Linked DNA regions of Homo sapiens. The protein of the gene in region 1 interacts with the protein of each later gene in a biochemical or structural test. Each region holds a gene or a part of one and is shown in the gene's direction. Other genes may lie near its edges.

Region 1 (7,000 bases):
GCTGAGGGTAGATACCTGTAAAATCATAGAGTATCTCTTCAAGGTTAAATAAGCTATGAATAACATCAGTTACTTTCTTGGGAGTAGGATTGGATAGCTGGGAACAAGGGTGGTAGATAAGCTTAGTTATCACTGCATAGCCTTTTGTGCCTTTTTGAATTTAGTCCTATGTCCATGAATTACCTTTTCAAAAATAATTTTGGAAAAAGTCCATAGGAGTGAAAGAGGTCTAGGGAGATACTAGAGAGAGAAGAGCAGAGCCCAGGACTGAGCTCTGAGTACCTCTCAACCTTTAGAAAGTAGATAGGATTGGAGGATCTAGCATAGAAGAAGGTGTCTTTACTTGATTCCTCAAAAGTCAAGTAAAAAAGAGGAAAGAGATGATCAGAGAGCATAGAGGCAGTTGGACATGATAAAGGAAGCAGCTTTAGTCAGGTCATGTTGCCATAACCATAATGGGGTGGGTTGAAGATTAAATGAGAGCTGAGGAAATGGAATATAGACATTTGAAGAAGCTTGATTATGAGAGGGGACAGAGAATGGGGGCAGAAGCTGGAGAGATATTGGGGTTAAGGGAGGTTTTTGTTTTTGTTTTAGAATTGGAGATAGTAAAGCATATTTGTATGCTGGGGGCAATTCCTCTCCACTGGAGAGGAAAATAAGGATACAGGAGAGGGAAAGAGGAGATGATCCAGTACAAAAACCTGAGGAATAAAATTATAATCTATGTGAATGAATGAATGAGATGTCCCTGAAAATTAAGACAGAGGATAAGATTCAGAGGAGTAGTCAAACATTACTTTTAGTAAGAAAGAAATGAGAAACGTTGGATTGTTTTGCATTTTTGCAAGTCTTATTAATGTCTGGCTTATAGAAGGCACATGGGCTCTTTTGCCTGCTTCTGTATCCAGTCTCTTTCAATAGCACATGTTCTATACCCTTTGGAAGATTCCACTGTAAACTTATGAGAGAAGAAGAAGAGTACCTCTTAGAATACATCTTAGTATTGTTAGGAAGATAGTTTGACCTTAGGGAGCCTCTGCCTTGGACCATATTTTGAGACTCTCTGCTCTAGCCTAAAGCATATTAGGAAGCTGTATTAGACTGCCTTTTTTTTTTTTTTAAATCTTGAATCAGCATCTTGCCCTGGAGTGCAGTGGCGTGATCATGGCTCACTGCATCTTCAACCTCCTACACTTAAGCAATCCTCCCACCTTAGCTACCCAAGTAGCTGGGACTACAGGTGCATGCCACCACACCTGGTTAAATTTTTAAATTTTTTGTAGAGACAGTCTCACTATGTTGCCCAGGTTGGTTTCAAATTCCTGAGCTCAAGCAATCCTCCTGCCTTGGCCTCCTAAAGTGCTAGGAGTACAGCATGAGCCACTGCATCCAGCGTAGACTGCTTTGTATATTTAAATTATGTGTCGTACTTAGAAGATGAGGTGATTAAATCCTTGATAAAAATCATGATTAAGGTTTTTGGTGTGATTATATCTTGAGTTGCCTTTGAATAATAGAAGCTTAGTAGGAGAAAGAAGTTTGTTTACTATATTTGAGTTAATCTCTTTAGCTCAAGCTAAAATAGTATATCAAATATTCCTCTGAGTAATTTAAGTGTAGATGACCTCAGTCCACATTCTTACCCTTGCTTTTTAGGCAATAATGTACCAGACCCTGTTTTAAAGTTACCTAGGAAATATCTTAAAACCGTCTTCTGTACTTTTTTCACTTACTGAATGATAAATACGTATTTTCTAGTATGTGCTTTTGGATGCCTTTAAAAGTTGATAATATCTGAAAAAGATGAATGGGCAATATTTTCCAATGGAAAAAGTAAGGCTTTGGAATCAGGAAGATGTATGTTTGAATCTCAGCTGGCAAATAGGAAGAATAACTATTTCTGGGACAAATGTGAAATTTGAATGTGGTTATAAATTAAAAGTGACTAGCTTAATGTCTGGAACATAATAGACATTCAGTAAGTTTAAATTTCCCTTTCTCTTTTCCACCACAATTTAGAAAGGCTTTAACAAATTTACAAGATGCTGCTTGAGGTCCAGCTACCTGGGAGGCTGAGGCGGGAGGATCTCTTGAGTTCAGGAGTTCAAGGCCAGCCCAGGCAACATAGCAAAGACCCTGTGTTTAAAAAAAAATTAGAACCTTTGTCACTCCATTAAGGGCAGAGGGCATGGGATAAAAGTTACTATAGATATATAAAGGGGCAATAGGAGTTTAAATATTGATAATTTTTCATGTTTTAATTAGTTCAGATATGTTATTTGTATCCTTGTATATTAAGACTTAATGTAATTAACAGTGTATTATCAGTATTGATGACAGTTTTTAACATGACTACCTCCTTTCATAATAAATGTACTCTTAGTTATGGATGTATCCTTATATTGAAAGAATTAATAATATACTTTACATTTACGTGTTTACCCAGAATTTTCACATAATTTCAATTAATCATTATAATTTGTAGGTTAAGTAACATTCAAAGGAGTTTTCCTTTAATTTTTTAATATTTCTCTTTTTTTTTCCCCCAGACAGTTCAGTTTGTTCAGGGAATTTTTGTTGAAAAATATGACCCAACGATAGAAGATTCCTACAGAAAGGTAAAATGTGAAACTTGTACACACATGCTTACAAGTAGTTCCTTATGATGTTAAAATTTGATCTGTAGATTTGCTTTTTGAAAATAGTTTTGAGAAATAATACAAATATTGTGCATCTGTTTTTAAAAGTTTCATCAAGACAGAACATTTCTTAACAGAATACTACTTTGATATTCAGAGCTCTATGTTCTGTTACTGATTAGTGACTTGTTCCTTAATGTGGACATTTTCCTGGTGGGGAATGTTGCCACATATGAAAAAATTGCATATAAATAGTAGGTGTGTTTTCAACTTACTCTTTTGTTACCAACAATTAAGACCACCTTTATGCTTGAAGTTATCCAGTGACTGAACATTTTTATTTTTGTTTAGTTTTATAAGTTTAAAGATATCTTTAGACTACCAAAAAATTAGAGTCTGTGTAATACTATAATTGGGTTATATGCCATACATTTGTCAAAACCCATAGAATGTACCATGCCAAAAGAAAATCCTAATGTAAACTGTGGACTCTTGGTGATAACGATGTGTTCATGTGGGTTCATCAGTTGTAACAAATGTACCACTCTGGTGCAGGATGTTGATGGTGGGGTGAGGCTATGCATTTGTGGTGGCAAGGAGTATGTGGGAAATCTCTGCACCTTCCCCTCAGTTTTGCTGTGAAACTAAAACTGCTCTAATAAAGTCTATTTAAAAGGGAAAAAAAATTAGGTACTTGGTCTTGACAAAAAATATTCTGTAGAAGACCAGCCAGAGTTGTGGAAAATTTTCAGTATTTTCTATGTCAAATATATTGGGTGGGGTGGAGGTTATAAAAGGCTAGTAGCCAAGAATATTTTTTAAAAAGATTAAACTTTAATAGGAAAGGATTGCTTTTGAAGACATTTTTAGAATTTACCTTTAATAGTGCTGTAACTTTTGTTGAATTAATTTGTTAGTTCATGAAGGACTACTAGTAGAGCAGTTTCATTGTCTTCAAATTGGAAACAGAATTATGCTCTAGATACATCAAGAAACTATAGTCCTAATTGATTATTCACTGAACATTCCCAGTTACAAATTTTGCAGATTATCACACTTGTCCCATAAGTGGTGGGGTGGATGAGTTTGTGGTCTGACCAGTGGTGCCCCTCATCAATGTCTGATCTGACACAGAAGCAGAGTTTAAAATAGTCTTTAGGTTAGCACATTTATTTTTAGAAGACAGTGTTGCTCTACTGAAATTTCCCCAAAGTAAGTTGCTAGTTAAAGCTTTAACTGCAAAGCAAGATCTGTACCTAAAATTCTAAGGGACTAACTTTTCTTAATCCCTTCTTTATTAAAACAGTTTTCCACACAGTTGATAGTTGATACTTTCATTAGACCAACCTTCTTTTCTTTTATAAGACCAATGGGTAAATAGAACTCAGTGTATAAAATTTCACCTTTCACATAGAGCTTTTCTAGAAAAGTGCCTTTTTCTTGAGGCACTGTTTTAGCTCATTGCTGTTTATTTTAGTACTCCTGTGTTTCTTTTATGTCTTAAACTCAGATTTTACTGTGTATTTAATTTTCTGCATATTTTAGTAAAATTTTAACAACTTGAACATGGTAAGTTGGCAAGATTTTCTTTACCCCAAAATGTTGTGCGCATTTTGAGCCATTTAATATTTTTGTACTTTGTTTTCTTTGGAGATAATATAAATACACATATGTACTTTTTTTTCTGTTAGAACTATACTTGTTCGTTGAAGTTTTCCTTAAATTTCAAAATATGACTTTTGCCTTTTCTAATAACAAATAAGAATCGTTACAGAGGTCAGAAAATATCTAAACTCAGCATTAACCATCTTGGCTTCTGTAATATGAATAGACTGTACTTGAGACCGCTGTTCTTTATTGTGGTACCAAGTTTACCCCCAGCCATTACAGCATACTGCTGGAGACAGGCTTTGTATTTGTTAATAGTTACTTTGATGGAAGAGGTGGGAAGAAAACAGAATGAGATTTTGATGTTACTCTTTAACCTTTTTTTTTTTTTTGCCCCCACAGCAAGTTGAAGTCGATTGCCAACAGTGTATGCTCGAAATCCTGGATACTGCAGGGACAGTAAGGATGTTTTCTCTTTTTTTGATAGATTTTAATTTGTGAGCAGGTTTTGTCATCTGAGTAGGTTTTGTCATCCAGATAATTCTGAGTAAAAGTAATCATTCTGATTAAGAAGAAATTCTCTGAACATAGGGATTCTTAAGTATATGAAATCAACTCTGATGTAGTTCATGCTCACATATCACAAAGTTCACCTGTAATAATCTGTGTGTTGGGTTTCTTCCTACATTGAGGTAAGGATTATGCTGTCAGTGATTTTTTAAAATTTATTTTAAATTTAGAGCTTTAGTTAATATTTGTATTTCTATGGGTTTAAATAAGACCTTGTCTCTTGGCACCATAGTCATTAATTTTTATAATTTTTTCTTTTCACTAGCATTTTGACATCTCAAGGGGCTGGTGACAGATACATGTTTTCTGAGGAAGGCAAAAATCTTCCTCAGAAGATTTAGAATTATTTTGAGCCTCCTTTTTCTAATCTTTAAATGAGTATAATGATGTTAGTACATCATAAGGTGTTTGTGATAAGCAAATGAGTTAATAATTATAAATCATTAGGCATAATGTCTGTTACACAGTATGGAATTGTGTATTTGCTTTTATTCTTCTTCATTAATACCATCACCTTTATAATTTTTATTAATAACTGATGGTTTCCAGTTATACTGCCACATAAAATACATACATTAAGCAATCTTTGCTTTTCTTTGTTTATTTTTCTCCATGCACATAGACTTGACACATTAGGCAATTCTTAGCTTTAAAATGGATGGGTTCGTTTTTTGTTTTGCTTAAGAGACGAGGTCTTGCTCTGTCACCTAGGCTAGGGTGTAGTGGTGCAATCATAGTTCACCGCAGTCTCCTGGGCTCAAACAGTCTTCCTGCCTCAGCCTCCTGGGTAGCTAGAATTAAAGGCACGTACCACCACCCCCAGCTAATAAAAAAATTTTTTTTGTAGAGGTGGTTTCGCTGTGTTGCCCAGGCTAATCTCGAACTCCTGACCTCAAGTGTTCTTCCTGGCTCTGCTTCTGAAAGTGCTGGGATTATAGGTGTGAGCCATGGCACCTGGCTGGCATTTTTAAATGTGATAAGTTGTTTAAAATTCAGCACAAAGTTTTCCACTATAATTTTTATAAATGATGGAAACATTTCAGATAGTTCAAAAAAGCATGTAAGCAAATTGGAGTGATTTTATACAACAATATAGTACTAATTATACTGTATTTTTCCATTCTTTTTTGGGAAAATGGCTTAACTCTTATCAGGGACCTTTGCCCTCACAACAAGCTTCTGGTAAAGACCTTCTGAAACTACATTTTCTATCAGCTGAATCAAGCTATCTCTCCCTCTCCCACCCTCCTGCTCTCTAATGTTTTTAGCTTCTGAATCAGCAGAATTCCCCTTTGTTTCCAGAGACCCTAATAGCTAAAATGAATACTTTCTGCTTTTTTTTTTTTTAAATCACATCCACAGTGTACGGGCATTCTTCTTTCTCTGTCCAGATTGTAAGAAGGAAGTTCTCTATCACAGAGATCTTTACTTTGTGCTATCCAATATCGTGTCTGTCTCCCATCTAGCACTCAACACGCTGTGTTATAAGGCCTATTTGCTTGTTTGTGTCCCCAGTACCTTGCATAAAACCTTACAAACAGCTGCATAATCTTGTCTCAAAATCACTCCTTACACTTTGAAGATTTTTGCTTTCTCTCTTTCACATACACTGATTCAATCAGAATTCTTAGTGATTTTACTATCCATATAGAATCTATATGGATATTATAAATGATTTACTACCCTGGCTTGGCCTGTCATTTCCTTGATGTCCATCCTACCTTTAAGGCATTCATACCATGGTTTTACTCTAGGCTATGTGATTACCAATAAGTATAATACCTCTCTAATCTAATTTCCAAGCATCTTATCCTCCATTACTCACTACTTTTTTCTTTATCCATCTCACTTCCTCTTTTTTTTTTTTTTTTGAAACAGGGTCTCTCTCTGTCACCCAGGCTGGAGTGCAGTGGTGTGAACACAGATCACTGCAGCTTCAACCTCCCAGGGTCAAGAAATCCTCCCACCATAACCTCCTGAGGAGCTGGTGCTACTGCAGGTGCATACCACCACACCTAGCTTTTTTTTTTTTTTAATTTTTTGTAGAGACAGGGTCTCACTATATTGTCCAAGCTGGTCTTGAACTGGACTCAAGGGATCCTCCTGTCTTTGGCCTCCCAAAGTGCTGGGATAACAGGTGTGAGCCACTGCACCCAGGCCATCTCATTTCCTTTAGTGCC
Region 2 (7,000 bases), on another chromosome or scaffold:
GGATTCACTTAATCTGGAGTATTGCTCACACAAGCTGGTTCATTCTTTTAATTCATAACATTGAGTGTTTCTCTTTGTTTTGTTTAAAGTTCCTTCTGATATTACTTTGTTTTAATGTTCAGATGCTAATCTGCATACTGCAGTCAATGAAGAGAAACACAGAGTTCCCACCTTCCCAGACAGAGTGGTAAGTCAACATTTTAAAAATGTTTTTCATGGTCAGGATATATTAAATAAACCAAGAGTTGCCAGATTCAAGACTAGAAAATGTGGAATTCATTTAGACTTCTCAGCAAAGAGAGAAAAACCATGAGCTCTAGATAATAGCTATGGGTGGTATTGAATAGCGGATTCAAATATAGAACCATTGTAATATCTCATATTTTTGCATTTCATTGTTGTGTCTTTTCCTAGCCAGTAAGCCCATAAATAGTCACCAAAAAAAAAAAAAGAAAAAATGGGTGCATGCGGGAGATGTCCTTAAGATGGCATCACACATAACAGGCAGCTGTTATTAGCTGTCATTCTTTCCTTACCATCAACATGGCCAAGACTGCTTTGTGGAAGTATCCTGGTGTTGAAATGAAACTCTATAGGACAAAAGCAGAAAACAACATAATTCTTTCCCTCCATTATCCCTTCAAAGCTATTCAGTGGGCTTTCTTCCCTGCTTCCAAATAAAGTCTTTGCCAAATTCCATAGTTTTGCAGTCATTCTCAAATGATAAAAATGTCCCCATTACTTGTAATCATAAGAACAGCCTCTGAATTGTTCCATCCAATGTTATTATCACATGACTGCAAACATCATTCCAAGTTAAACATCTGTCACCTAGCTTGGGCCTGCATCACCTGGCAGCATGCTTTTGGGGAGGGATTTTGGGGGGGCTGAGATTCATGGCCCTTTCAGAGTTAGTTCCAAGGAAGATGAGGTCTAATTAAAAAAAGACACACATAGCTGTTTCTATCATGATTTGGTGGTGGTGGTATCGGAGTGAGTTTTCCAGCACTGATTCTTTATCTCATGGGAGACTTTTAGGAATTTCCTACTGAAGGGCAGATCCATATGTAGTTTTATGACAGGGGAGAGATCTTGATCCTCAGTTCTTGGATTTTCAGCCCTCAATCTTTCAAGATGGCTGTCAGCCAACTTTTTCCCAAGAGTGGAGTTGGCCTATAAGAAAACAAACAAAACCTTGATTGCTCTGGTTAATTAAGCTGTATGTAGCTCTCTCTCGAAGTACAGGCTACTGCTGTCTTTTTGCTCTACTCTCTTGGGTTCATAGCCACAGCCTTCTGTTTTTAGGGTTCCCAGGCAGGTGTGAGCCTCCTCAAATGCCAGGATACACAAAAAATGGCTTCCCATTGGTTCTCTGGAAGTTCACCTGAAAGCAAGGGGACATCTCCGCCCATCTATTGGATCTATGGTGTCTTGGGTACTTATTTTCAGCTACACACATTCGCACACACTTCTCTCTTTCTAAGTAAAAGCCACATAATTTTCATGAATCAACATGAAAGACAAAAATAATCCATTATTGTAGTAGACTGAATAATGTCCCCCAAATTTCATATCCATGTAGAACCTCAGAATGTGACCTTATTGGAACTAGGATCTTTGCAGATGTAATTAGTTAAAGATCAAGATGAAATCACACGAAAGATGAGAGTGGGCCATAAATCCAATGACTAGTAAGATGAGAGGACACAGAGAGATACACAGAGGAGAAGGCCATGTGAAGACCTAGGAAGAGATTGGAGTTATGTTACCACAGGCCAAGGAACACCTGTTTCTTAGTCCATTTGTGCTCTACTAAGGAATACCTGAGGCTGGGTAATTGATAAAGAAAAGAGGTTTATTTAGCTCACCGTTCTGCAGGCTGTACAAGTAGCATAGCACTGGCATCGGCATCTGATGAGGGCCTTAGGCTGCTTCCACTCATGGCAGAAGGGAAGGGGAGCTAGTGTGTGCAGAAATTGTATGGTGAGAGAGAAGAAACAAGAGAGAGGGAAGGGAGATAGCAGGCTCTTTTCAACAACCAGCTCTCATGGGAAATCATAGAGTGAGAACTCATTCACTACCATGAGAATGGCACTAGGCCATTAATGAGGGATTCGCCCCTATGACCCAAATACCTCCCATTAAGCTCTACCTCCAACACTGGAGATCACACATCAACATAAAATTTGGAGGGGTCGAATATCCAAACCATAGCAACTTGGAACCACCAGAAGCTGGAAGAGGCAAGGAAAGATTTTATCCTAGAGGCTTCAGAATAAGTATGGCAATGCTGAAATGTTGATTTTGACTTCTAGCCTCTAGAACTGTGAAACAATAAATTTTTGTGGTTCTAATCCACCAAACTTGTAGCAATTTGTCATGGTAGCCCTAGGAAACAATTATAATCGTTAGGAGTTTTACTTTGTTATTAGCAACATTGCTGTTTGGGTTTGAAAATATGTTTCAGTCCTGAAGCTTGAAAAGTATGGCCCTCTAAAACACCTAGGAGAAACGCCCAGATTAGGCAAATCTATAGAAACAAAGGGTGATCAGTGGTTGCCTGGGACCAGAGTAGGGATGAGAATTGACTGCAAATAGGTATGAAGGATCTTATTGGAGTGATGGGAAGACTGGGCTGTGGTGATAGTTATACAAGTTGATAAATTTACAAAAGTCACTGAATTCTGCACTTTAAAAAGGATGAACTACCAATAAAGTTTGTTTTGACAAGTCTAAGAGCAGAAGATAATTAAGAGCCAGAAACCATTGCATCTAGTCTCCAGCAGGGAACTTTTTGGCCAATATATTGAAAATTATCAGCTAGGCAAATCAGTGGCTAAGGGTTCATAAGCCTGTTTTGATTATAAGCTTCCCAAATGAACCAGGGATCAGAGGGTATCATGTAAAGTATGTTTTTCTTTGTTTTGTTTTTTATCAGAGTATTCAGTAGAGGGCTTATTTTCTGAATGGAGGAAATAAAAATCAGCTCTCTAGTTGTTCTGTTCAAAGAGATTTCCTTAAATGATTTCCATTTAAGGAACTTCCTAGTGCATTTTTCTTTGGACATAACCCACTTCACAGCTCATAAATAACACTGTCCTGCATAATTAAAATTTCCAGAATGTCAAAGCCTTAACTCCAAGTAAATGAAATTTCTGAAAAACTAAAATATAGCATGAAAAAAATATTAAATGCATCTCTTTCTGTCACACACGCACACACAGACACACACACACATATTGTGAATTTTTAACTGAAATATAACATTAACATAGAAAAGCACACAAATCCTAAGTGTTCAGCTTGATGAATTTTCACAAACTGAACAATTCTGTATAATCCACCCTCAGATAAAGAAACACAACATCACAGAACCCCAGGGACACCCTGATGTTCCCTTTCAGTCACTACTACCCTCCAAAAGTAGTTGCTAACCTGATTTATAACATCATAGATTGTTTGCCTGATTTTGACTTTTATATGACTGGAATTATAAAGTGTGTAGTCATTTATTGTGTGTCTTCTTTTCTTCAATTTGTGAGATTCGCTTATTTTTTTAGTATGTGATTATATTTACCGTCATCATTGTATAGAATTCAGTTGTGTGAATATACAACTGTTTTGGTTTCTTATTACTGTTCTAACAAATTACTACACAAATTTAGTGGCTTAAAGCAACATACATTTATTCTCTTATAGTTTGGAAGATCATATGTCTAAAATGGGTCTGCACAGCTGTGTTTCCTCTGGAAGCTTTAGGGAAGATTCTGTTTCCTTGCATTTTCCAGTTCCTAAGGGGTACTTACATTTATTGGTTCCTGGCTCCTTCCCCTGTCTGCAGAACCAGAAGGTTGCAGGACCTCTACTCTCTAACCTCTGCTTCCATCCTCACAGCTCTCTAATCTCTGACCACCTTATCTCCCTTTTATAAAGGCCATTTTGATTACATCAGGCCCACCCCCACAAAATCCAGAATAGTTGCCCCATCTCGAAATCCTTAATTACAATCTGCAAAGTCTCTTTTACCACGTAAGGTATTCACAGGTTCTGGGAATTAGGACATGAACATATTCGGGAGACCATTTTTCAGCCTTCAACAACCACAACATGTTTATTATTTTATCCTCTTGATGGGCATGTAGGCAGTTTCTAGTTTTTATCTAATTAAAATAATTCTGCTATGAACATTCTTTTACAGGTCTTTTGGTTTCCCTGTTGTGTATATATACGTAAAATTTATGAGTCATAGGGTATGACCAGATGCACATCCAGATTTACTAGATTCTGCAAACAAATTTCCAATGTTGTTGTACCACTTCATACTCCAACCAGCAAAATATGAGTTCCAGTTGCTCCATATCCTTGCTCATACCTTTCTTCTTTCCTTGCCTCTTTCCTTCCTCCCTTCCTCCCTCCCTTCCTCCCTCCCTTCTCTCCTTCCTTTCTCTCTCTTTCAAGAGCTGATATACTTAATTGTCAGTTCCCGGTACCTGAATCTGTGCCTCACTGTGATGTATTAAAATTTCTTCCCCTCCAAAGCTGAAGATACCTCGGGCAGTTCCTGTTCTCAAAATGGATGCACCATCTTCAAGTACCACTCTAGCCCAATATGACAACGAATCAAAGAAAAACTATGGCTCCCAGCCACCATCTTCAAGTACCAGTCTAGCGCAATATGACAGCAACTCAAAGAAAATCTATGGCTCCCAGCCAAACTTCAACATGCAGTATATTCCAAGGGAAGACTTCCCTGACTGGTGGCAAGTAAGAAAACTGAAAAGGTAATCCCCAGCTTTCAGACGGGCTGCCCAGCATGTAGAGTAAACACTACCCCGGCTGCCCTGGACCTCAGCCTCAAAGCTGTTGATCCAGGTCTTAGGCTGTCCTCTCAGAAAATGTTCAGTGCTTGAGCCAGAAGTCTGGGGAAGCAGTGGCCCCACTGGGGCTGAGAAGCATAGATTTTCCATTTAGATTATCCAATCTAATGATCTCAGTAATGCCTGATCATTGTATTCCCTTCCCTTTCTCCTCCTTCTCCCCCCAAATATCTCCACATTCCAGAATACAGAATCTTTAAAAATCTATCCTTTATATGAAAGAGCTTAGGATGGGCTTACTTTTGTAATGTGCTTCAGTATCACTAGCCAAATGGCAAATAGCATTTCAAGCAAGGCCATGGCTTGCCTTCTTGGAATGTACAACCTCACCTCTCCTGACCTGATTAGTCTTCTCACAGTTTTTAGCCTAAAGATTCTATCTAAAGCCAGAATTGAAAATTCCTTGAAGGCAACATGTAAATTGTGTATGTATGTATCTCTTGGTATGGCACTGAATTTGCCCTACACTTGATGCCCAATAAATGTTGAATTGAATTGCAAGATGACCATATGGAAAGGGTCAAGTGACTCCCCTTCCTTATTTCCTGTCTCAGACCTCCTTCCTATCATGTTGTCTACTCTCTGCCATCTTCTCACTCAGTTATCAGCATCCCTGCAGGGAAGTCATGTCTGCCTTTCCCCACAATGGATACAGAGCATCTCTCTGACTCACCATGTATCTCTTTTCTTAGTTATTTTTCCCATGTCCTTTTATTCCTTTGTTCTTTCCATCTTCATCATTTTTGCCTAAAGCCAATTACTGAAAGTTTCAATAATACAGGGCCATATGGAATTTGAAATAATGTAAGTGTGTTCTTCTTGATTTTTTTTCAGTATAATAAGCCATGGTCCCTTTCATTCCAAAGTGGAGCTAGAATCCTAGTGTATTAATCTATACCTGGTGCCCAAGGTATGGGGTTACATTTGTGCGCCTGCAGCCCACCATTCTTGTGGAAGGAGAGGATCAGTAAACCCAGTTGCAAGGAGAGTGAAAGTCATGTTAATTGTGTTCCAGGTCCCCTTCCTGACAGAAACTCCAGTGATTCATTGAGAGAGGTGTGAGGTGAAGCTGACTGCCCTGTTTTCAAATAACCAGGAGGAACTGTCGATTCACATGGGGTTGCTGCCATTATTGAGTTTTTGACACTCCTTTAGATTTGCACCTCCTTAGGTTTAGTCCCAACTGTGGATTTTCCCTAGAACTTCAGGAAGCTAGTTATTTTAACAAAGGATTGATTGATCACCTCTTAGCATGAGCAGCATTGCATCTGCAAGTAAATTATAATAATTGCTAAAAGGTCTTCATGGAGCTTGACTTTTTAAAGTGCAGCCATGATTCTTATCTCATATATGGGATAATACTTTTTATCAACTTTCTGTCATTCTTACAATCTTCCCTGAGCTTCTTTTTAATCTACTTTCTGTTTAGTAAGATAATCTATGCCCCCATTAAATCATTCAAATATTACAGAATATTCCATTTACATTCCCCTAAAATGTTTTCTATGCACATGTGGCCATGTGCATACAAAAGCAAGTAAGTTCTCACGATACAGTCTTTGTCATTTGTTCTTTTCACTTGACATCTTCAGCATTTTTCCTATTTGAATACATGAGGATACACCTGACTTTTAAAATTTCATTTTCATTTAATTTTGGTGAAATATACATAACATAAAGTTTACCATCTTAATTATTTTTGAGCATACAGTTCAGTAGTGTTAAGTACATTTACATTGTTGTGCAAATTGCCTGATTATTTTTAATGTCTGTAAGTACCAGTTGTATAGATACTAGGTAAACCTAAGTGATGCACTATTGATGGACATTCTCTAAGTGTTTTTAGAAACAACAAGGCTAAATAAAAGCTATTCTAGTGGGCAAGGCTCTTTGGGAAGGTGGAGAGAGAGGCATTTTAGAGTTTAAGGGCTTTATCTAGGCATTCCTTGAAATAGAGCCAGGGGAGCATTTCCTTGCTAAGGAAACTTGTTTCTATGAACTGTGGTTTTGAAAAAAGTCTGGACTATGAAGGCAAACAGGAAATAGGTTCCACATTCCAGATAAAACAGCCTTTAGACTTTGAGAGGTAGGCACTTCTTCATGCTCTGCTTAATACCCCAAAT

Evidence for each region. The genes of interacting proteins can lie anywhere in the genome.
Region 2: the proteins of RAP1A (region 1) and BMX form a complex in vitro, tested with the Homo sapiens proteins (one study listed by BioGRID).

The regions. Positions count from the first base shown.
Region 1 is NC_000001.11:111,692,789-111,699,788, forward strand, and holds part of RAP1A (ras-related protein Rap-1A precursor), read left to right. Parts: intron 1-2,552; coding exon 2,553-2,621; intron 2,622-4,652; coding exon 4,653-4,709; intron 4,710-7,000. UniProt on the Homo sapiens protein: Counteracts the mitogenic function of Ras, at least partly because it can interact with Ras GAPs and RAF in a competitive manner. Together with ITGB1BP1, regulates KRIT1 localization to microtubules and membranes.
Region 2 is NC_000023.11:15,517,807-15,524,806, forward strand, and holds part of BMX (cytoplasmic tyrosine-protein kinase BMX), read left to right. Parts: intron 1-122; coding exon 123-187; intron 188-390; exon of another isoform or gene 391-1,121; coding exon of another isoform or gene 1,122-1,173; intron 1,174-4,539; coding exon 4,540-4,781; intron 4,782-7,000. UniProt on the Homo sapiens protein: Non-receptor tyrosine kinase that plays central but diverse modulatory roles in various signaling processes involved in the regulation of actin reorganization, cell migration, cell proliferation and survival, cell adhesion, and apoptosis.